Linked DNA regions of Homo sapiens: region 1 is linked to region 2. A link means that fine-mapping ties the variant in region 2 to the plasma level of a protein whose gene starts in the linked region. Region 2 holds a variant in brackets. A gene starts in the other region. All regions are shown on their reverse strands.

Region 1 (4,396 bases), not on the chromosome of region 2:
GGCAGATCACGAGGTCAGGAGATTGAGACCATCCTGACAGACATGGTGAAATCCCATCTCTACTAAAAATACAAAACAATTAGCCGGGGGTGATGGCAGGCCCCTGTAGTCCCAGCTACTCGGGAGGCTGAGGCAGGAGAATGGCGTGAATCCAGGAGGCAGAGCTTGCAGTGAGCCGAGATGGTGCCACTGCACTCCAGCCTGGGCGACAGAGCGAGACTCCGTCTCAAAAAAAAAAAAAAAGAAAGAAATTGGTATGACTGTTGACTCACAACAGGAGTCAGGGGCATGGGGTGGGGTGTAAGATTAATGTCATGACAAATGTGGAAAAGAAACTTCTGTTTTTCCAACTCCACGTCTGCTACCATATTATTACACTCTTCTGGTAGTGTGGTGTTTATGTGTGAATTTTTTTTCATATGTATACAGTAATTGTAGGATATGAACCTGATTCTAGTTGCAAAACTCACTATGAGCTTAGCTTTTAAGTTGCTTAAGAATAGGTAGATCTATGCAAATAATGATAATTATTATTATTATTTTAAGAGAGGGTCTCACTTTGTCACCCAGGCTGGAGTGCAGTGGTGTGATTAAGGGTCACTGCAACCTCCACCTCCCAGGCTCAAATAAACCTCCCACCTCAGCCTCCCCAGTAGCTGGAACCACAGGCACGGGCCACCACGCCTGGCTAATTTTTTGTATTTTTTGTAGAGATGGGGTTTCATCATGTTGCCCAGGCTGTTCTTGAATTCCTCGGCTCAAGCAATCCTCCCACCTTGGCCTCCCAAAATGCTGGCATCACAGGCATGATGGCATCACTGGCATCACATACCATGCCTGGCCTGATTTATGCAAATTAGATATGCATTTCAAAATAATCTATTTTTATTTGTTGCCTTATTGGTGGTACAATCTCAAGTGGAAAAATCTAAGGGTTTTGGTGTTATTTGCTTACTCAACCAATATTTATTAGACTCTTACTAAGCACCAACATGATCACATGCCTGAGCTATGGCTAGCATAGCGTGTGAGACAAACTTAATCTCTGTTTTGGTGGAGCATATAATCTAGTAGATGAAGCCAATGTTGAGCAACATCACAATACTAACAAATTGAGGATGCTACGAGAGTGTCTAACAAATTGAGGATGCTACGAGAGTGTCTAACAAATTGAGGATGCTATGAGAGTGTGTCATGGAGAGCTGCCTGGAGATTGAGAGAAAGCTTCCTTGAGGGAAGTTACATTTCAGCTGAAACACACTGCCATCTGCTCGAGGTTTTGTAACTGCATTCACATCCCGATTCTGACACTTCACATCCCGATTCTGACACTTCACCCAGTTACTGTCTCAGAGCTTGGGTCCGCATGTGTAAAACAAGGACAGTATGCACTTGGCAGGGTTGTGAGAAGGGAAGAGAACACAAGTAAAGCACCTGTATCAGGCATACAGTAGGCACTAAGCGTGCGATGCTTGCTATGATTATACATCAGTGTAAGCATCAAGGAAAAGCTGAAGAAAAGTCTGACCAACAGCGAAAGATAAATGCGCAGAGGAGAAATTTGGCAAAGGCTCCAAATTCAGGGGCAGTCCGTACTCTACACTTTGTATGGGGGCTTCAGGTCCTGAGTTCCAGACATTGGAGCAACTAACCCTTTAAGATTGCTAAATATTGTCTTAATGAGAAGTTGATAAAGAATTTTGGGTGGTTGATCTCTTTCCAGCTGCAGTTTAGCGTATGCTGAGGCCAGATTTTTTCAAGCAAAAGTAAAATACCTGAGAAACTGCCTGGCCAGAGGACAATCAGATTTTGGCTGGCTCAAGTGACAAGCAAGTGTTTATAAGCTAGATGGGAGAGGAAGGGATGAATACTCCATTGGAGGTTTTACTCGAGGGTCAGAGGGATACCCGGCGCCATCAGAATGGGATCTGGGAGTCGGAAACGCTGGGTTCCCACGAGAGCGCGCAGAACACGTGCGTCAGGAAGCCTGGTCCGGGATGCCCAGCGCTGCTCCCCGGGCGCTCCTCCCCGGGCGCTCCTCCCCAGGCCTCCCGGGCGCTTGGATCCCGGCCATCTCCGCACCCTTCAAGTGGGTGTGGGTGATTTCGTAAGTGAACGTGACCGCCACCGAGGGGAAAGCGAGCAAGGAAGTAGGAGAGAGCCGGGCAGGCGGGGCGGGGTTGGATTGGGAGCAGTGGGAGGGATGCAGAAGAGGAGTGGGAGGGATGGAGGGCGCAGTGGGAGGGGTGAGGAGGCGTAACGGGGCGGAGGAAAGGAGAAAAGGGCGCTGGGGCTCGGCGGGAGGAAGTGCTAGAGCTCTCGACTCTCCGCTGCGCGGCAGCTGGCGGGGGGAGCAGCCAGGTGAGCCCAAGATGCTGCTGCGCTCGAAGCCTGCGCTGCCGCCGCCGCTGATGCTGCTGCTCCTGGGGCCGCTGGGTCCCCTCTCCCCTGGCGCCCTGCCCCGACCTGCGCAAGCACAGGACGTCGTGGACCTGGACTTCTTCACCCAGGAGCCGCTGCACCTGGTGAGCCCCTCGTTCCTGTCCGTCACCATTGACGCCAACCTGGCCACGGACCCGCGGTTCCTCATCCTCCTGGGGTAAGCGCCAGCCTCCTGGTCCTGTCCCCTTTCCTGTCCTCCTGACACCTATGTCTGCCCCGCCAGCCGCTCTCCTTCTTTTGCGCGGAAACAACTTCACACCGGAACCTCCCCGCCTGTCTCTCCCCACCCCACTTCCCGCCTCTCATTCTCCCTCTCCCTCCCTTACTCTCAGACCCCAAACTGCTTTTTGGGGGGTATCATTTAAAAAATAGATTTAGGGGTTACAAGTGCAGTTCTGTTCCATGGGTATATTGCATTGTGGTGGCATCTGGGCTCTTAGTGTAACTGTCACCCGAATGTTGTACATTGTATCTAATAGGTAATTTCTCATCCCTCATCCCTCTCCCACCCTCCCACCTTTTGGAGTCTCCAGTGTCTACTATTCCACTAAGTCCATGTGTACACATTGTTTAGCGCCCACTCTAAATGAGCCTTTTTGTTTCATTCATTCTGTAAGTGTTGAATAGGCACCACCTAAGGTCAGGTATAAGTGGAAATTTGAAAAAGAAACTGCCCACTTGCCCCAGTACTTCCCTAGCCAAGAGGAGGGAAACCAGGCAGGTGCACCTGAAGGCCTGTGAGTGCTTGATTTGCTGTGCAGTGTAGGACAAGTAAGATTGTGCATAGCCTTCTGTATTTAAGACTGTGTTAGGAAGATTTCTCTTTCTTTTCTTTTCTTTTTCTTTTTTCTTTTCTTTTTTTTTTTTTAGGCAGATGAAAAGGGCGTCACAGAACAGGAATAAAAATCTAAATATTCAATAAATGAGACCTAGGAGACTACTGCAGTGACTTACAAAGTCCTAATAAAAAGATGTCTCTCCAAAATGGGGCTGCAAAATGTGGTGCTGCCTTATCAGCTCTAAGTTTTTTCCTTACCTGAGAAAGAAGGAACCTGATGCAGGTTCAGGGCTCCTGCCCCATGAATGCAGGCTGACTCCAAGATGGGGAGCTACAGGGACAATCCCAGGTCTTCTAGGCCTCTTATTTAGGCCCTGGGAGCCTCCAGAGATGGCCACATCTTGACCAGCCCAGATAGAGGGAAAGATCACCATTATCTCACCTCTGTGTCAAATACCTAGATGCTGTCCTCCCTGAGCCCACACTATAGTTGCCAGCGCTAATTTAATGGGTAGTGTACTGGTTAAGAGATGGACAGACCATCCTGGCTTGACTCTCAGCTCTGGCAAAGATGAGTGACTTGGTTTTTCCATATCTCTTGGCCACACCAACCTTGATTTCTTCAGCTGTAGAATGGAATTTCTCAAGCTTGCCTCAAGGATTATTGCCCGAGGATTTGATGATATGGTAAGAGCTTCTCAGTGTTTGACCCATAGTAAGTGTTTGACGTTTCAAACGAATTGTTTCTTTCTAGGACATGGTGAGCATTTGGTAGCCATTCACCGGTTTTCTGTTTCTTTGGATCATAGTTAACCTCTCCTTTTCCTTCTGGCACTACAATTTTCTGGTGGGGAAGAATCCTTACTTTCTGCCCTTCCCCTTAAGGATAGGAAGCTGATACTAGGCAGCAACTAGTTGGGGGATAGGAAGATTGTTCCAGAGAAATGCTGAACCATAGGGCTCCAGATCACAGGACCCCAGTCTTAGCTTGCTGGGGTGTGGGGTGGGGGGGGGCGGTTACTGAACATGGGTATGAAGTAGATGTCCATTTACTGAAATGTGAGGACCTGAGGCCTCTTCTATTGCTGTAGCCAGCATATTCCCCAACCTCTCCCCAAGAAAGGACAGATGGGGGTTCCCCCCTGGAGTAACAGGTCCAAAAGAAAAAACATACAG
Region 2 (4,396 bases):
TTAAACATTCTGTTGGAAGATTTATTCAGACTTTACACGAGCTGAGGTCATGTTTCTCTCTGTGTATGGCACAGCCATTGTGCCAGGGGCTGGATCTGACATGGCTTGGCCATGTTTTTTTGCTACCACAAAACAGGTTGAAAAAGAGCCTTTGACCTTTGTGGAGAATTCCCTACTCTGTAATCCAGCCACAAACCATATGGTGCACCCATAAAGGCCTGGCCTCAACTTGTGGCTACCCTCAAGTTCAGTAGGACCTTCAAGCAGAAGGAGCCACAGTGTCTGTTTTGTGCTTATTTTTCACCTTCTGCTGCATTAGACCTTACTGACCACTGCCTTCATAAACTTTTCTCCTACCTTAATTTCCGTGACTCCACTCTCCACTTTCTATCTCCTTGCTCTATTCCCCCATCTACTTTCTGTTTTTATATTTTCCATTCACCCAAACGTTAGCTCAAAGGTCCCAGCATTCCTTTTTTTGGCCTTTGTTTTTGTTTTTTAATCATAAAACAATCTCTTCGATGTCTAGAGCTTCAACTGACATCTGAATCTGATTGCTTTCAAATCTACGTCCAGAGTCTGGCCCTTTCCCTTATGCTACACTTCTAGCTGAGATAGAGCAGCCATGTGAAGATATTCCATGGGCACCTCAAAGGTTTTCACTTTCCTCCATTGCTTTGTATTCCTGATTAGAGATGCTAGTAACCCCATCCTCAAAATCTTCCAGCCCTCCCTGCTTTTCCTCAAGTCCTGCATTCAACCAGTCACCAAATTCTGCGTTTTCTATCATTTTGTCATTTTTTTTTAATTTTTTTAATTTACATGTAAATATAATCATTTTACTTCCTTCCTAGAACCCTATCATCTTCAGGACAAAGTCCATGTATCTTATGATTCCTATTGAACTTCCCAAAATGTCCAGAATGCCCACACATTATCTCTCTCCCTCCCTTTGCACATGCTGTTCCTTATTCTGGAATTTATCCTTCTCCCTTGCAACACTGTCTTCTTGGGAAATTCCCAGTCATTCATCAAGACTCATCCCAAACATAATTTCCATTTTGAATTTTGATCTTACCTTCCAGAAACGCTAATACTGTCCAGTTTGTCATTTCTCTATGCTCCCACAGCACCAGGTATACACACTTCTATGTCAGCAGTCAGCATATGGATTTATAGTGGGTTTGTTCACTTTTCAATCTCCCATATGAAGCCATAAGCTCTTTGAAGACTAAGACACTGTTTTTCAATGGTCCACTTAAGTCTCCAGGGTCCACTGCTGCAACTAGATCAGCTGTTTTAGCTATTCTGTCTGGTCGTCCAGACCTTGAGTAGTGCTGCTATGAATAAACCCATAATGCTCTGTGCCTGTGTCCAAGTAATGTCACAGCCAAATGGGGGAAGTGAAGAGAAATGCTGTTATCATGTGGTATTCAAGCACTAACTCCTAAAAGGGATGGCTTATTTCTCAGGATAGTAGACACTCATGCTGACTGTGGTAAGACAAAACATACGGAGAAAATAACGTGTTGCTGGAAACCAATGTGATCTAATAATGAAATTTTCCAAGGCATAAATGATTGCTTTTCCAATTTGCCTTTATCCATAACTAGAGTTGTGGGGAAAACATAATTCATGAAGGTGTATTGTCCAAAGAGGTTAAAAAAAGGTTTGTCATATGCCAATGAGGGATTGACATTTGTTTGAATCTGGTGACCTCCAAGAGGAAGCTGCTGTGGGACTGGGCTTTCGATAAATTCTAATTTGGTATCCTAATGGGTAGTTATCACCATTTTCAAAGTGTTTGTTCTTATTGACACGTATTTGCCTTCTTGTTTATACTCTCCTATTTGTATTAGCCTTTTTGCCATTTATCTGTCTGGGTTCTGAGTTTCAATATTCAACCAATTCTACAATAAGCATTTGGTCATGTTTTGACATCTCTGAAATTGGAGTGTGTTAGTACAATTGTTGACATCTTATTGTCATGGGTCAGCCAGGACCATTTGTGACTTTGCCGCTATTGTCTGTGCAAACTTGGTCATTAATTATTGGTGGCCTGACAGACTAACTGTAACCCCTTGCCCCATAGGAGAACTTTTTGTATCCCCCACTGGTGTGAGGGCAGGACAGGGTTTTCTCCACTCTGTATCTTCACTAGAGTGATCTGGATTCTCTATTTCTTTCATCTGTTGTCAGGAAGCTTCTTTGCCAGGGCTACAATGCCTAGTAGTCCAGAAGAGATGTGAGCTGAGGAAAACATGAGGTCCCATCCTGCTCACCCTTATCTCAGTGTAAAGATAGATGTCTTTCCATGCAAAAGGAAGAACAGTCAACCTCAGAGTTCCTCCTCTGTACCACAGAGATTAGGAGCAAACACTTCTGCATTTCACTAGGGTAATGTGTCAGCCTCTCCACATCCTAGCATTACTAGATGTGTTTGGAAGAAAAGAGTGCTAACTCAT[G/T]GTGGCCTCCCAAAAGCCACGTGGTAGCGTCTGTTCTACACTGCCTGCTTCTGCTCTTTACTCTCAGCTCTACCCTGGTATATCTGTCAGTGTTCGTTCAAGAAAATAGACACATGCCTGATATTCAAATGGAGAGGACTTAATAAAAGCAATTGGTTACACAGATGTTGAAGATTAATGGCAAGAAGGAAACCCAGAAGCAATAGTAGCCACAGGAAGCAGCTACAATTCCTAGGTTTGAGGGAACCAAAAGGAAAATTTATGGGCACCAAAACCTAGGAGTCAAGAGGAAGGGCCCCATGTTGCCAGTGCTCAGGGATGGAGGTGCCACACACTGATAATTAGGTCTCTGAGGGGGTCCAGACACAGGGCTGATGATGGTACCTCTAAGGGATGGGTCTGAAAGGGTTTTTAAAAGCTGGAGACTGGAGCCATAGCTGCCCTCTGCTGCTAAAGAGATGTGCCAGGAGCTGCAAACAGGAAGATGTTGTCCAAGGACTCTTTCTCTCATCCTCTCATGTTGCAGTCTCCTGCCAATGCTGCTCAAAGGCAGAATTTAATGGGAATCTATCCAGCAGAGGAATCTGGGAAATGTAGCTTGCAGACTTCTAGTAGAATATAGAGAAAATGTGGGCTTGGGACTCAGAGACAACAAAGAAATAAATGTCACAATAGGCCACTGAGTTCTTTGCAGCTGGTTACTGCCTGGAACTGGAGATTCATTTCCTCCCAGATGTGATGCGTTCACCAGGGGATACACTTCAGAAGTGGGGTGATCTGAGGAAGACCACGTTTCCCCATGTTGCCCCCTCCTGATCATCTTCCATAGCACCATGAGCACAAAATAACATGTACACAACATACTCCACTGATGGGAATTAAAACTACAAGGAAAAGAACTTAAGTTAGGGAGCATAATGTGGCTATTCTTAGTCTAAAATAGGGGTTCTCAACCTTGGTTCTACTGACATTTAGAGGTAGATAATCCTTTGCTGTAAGGGGCTGTCCTAGGCATTGTAATATGCTTAGCAGCATCCCTGGCCTCTACCCACTAGATGCCAGCAGCACCCTGCCCTAAGTTGTAACAATAAAAAATGTCCCCCAACATTGCCAAATAGTTGGAAAGAGGCAAAATCACCCCCAGTTGGTCTAAGAGTAAAGCACAAAAATTTAAACCTTAAGCATTTCCCTGTGGGTATTTTCCAATTCCTAGATTTACTTCTCTTCAAAAAGAGCCCTTCTAATGTCTTTCTATTACAACTATATCCCTCTTTCTGGAACATTCTATATCTTTCCCACAGGACAATTGGTTATATCATGGAGAGATCCCTTCTCATAAGAAAGAGGGGTGGATATTATAACTCACAACTTACATTTCCCAAAGTGTAAATTATGTGTTCTAAAATAGCCTCAAGAACCAGGGTGCATTATGGCACTCAATGCCTGGCCCATCTCAAGGTCTCTCCATTAACGTGTGGTGGCAACGCTGTAATATTCAGAAGCTAACTGCCTTCACCTCCCACACATCCCATGCAACATGAAACTATACTTCTCAGAAACCATGCAGTTGACACTCATATTGAAGGAGGAAATTTTTCATATGTGCGATATAATCTTCCTCTTGCTGCAGCAGAAATAATGTTTCACTTTATGGTATGGTGCATCATCAGCTTCTCTTTATTCATTCTCTGACAACCAGACCATGCCTACACATCTGTTGATAGATAAGAGTCTCTTCAAGCAACAAAGCCATATAGCCCTCTATAGCTACACACAAACACTTTGAAATGACATCTTGCTTTACAATGTAATCTTATTTTTAGGTAAGGTAGCCACTACAACCCTAAGTGGAAAGCAACAAGAATAAAGATATATTTTCATCTTATTCAGGTTTGGAAATTGGAGTGGGAGGATGGAAGACTGTTCTTTTA

Which allele goes with the higher level. Alleles are on the strand shown, and positions count from the first base shown. The strength of an association depends on the size of the effect and on how common the allele is.
In carriers of allele T in region 2, the plasma level of the protein whose gene starts at base 2,307 in region 1 tends to be lower than with G alone (weak association).

What was found. A credible set is the group of variants that fine-mapping cannot tell apart. PIP is the chance, under the fine-mapping model, that this variant and not a neighbour inherited with it causes the effect. Protein levels are from antibody-based Olink assays in UK Biobank. Linkage for the fine-mapping came from a reference panel and not from the study's own genotypes, which makes the PIPs less certain.
Region 1: it holds the start of HPSE, and the variant in region 2 is the best candidate, but not a certain one, in a credible set for the plasma level of the HPSE protein (UK Biobank, PIP 0.60).

What each region holds. Positions count from the first base shown.
Region 1 is chr4:83,332,759-83,337,154 of GRCh38, reverse strand. It overlaps HPSE (heparanase), which reads left to right and starts at 2,307. Exons shown (of 12, transcript NM_001098540.3): 1 at 2,307-2,599. The coding sequence starts at 2,373.
Region 2 is chr3:18,207,087-18,211,482 of GRCh38, reverse strand. The region is part of intron 4 of BALR6 (B-cell acute lymphoblastic leukemia associated long RNA 6); the gene reads right to left. Among named protein-coding and RNA genes, the nearest start is that of SATB1, 220 kb to the left of the region's middle. The variant G/T (reference allele first, on the strand shown) is at 2,466.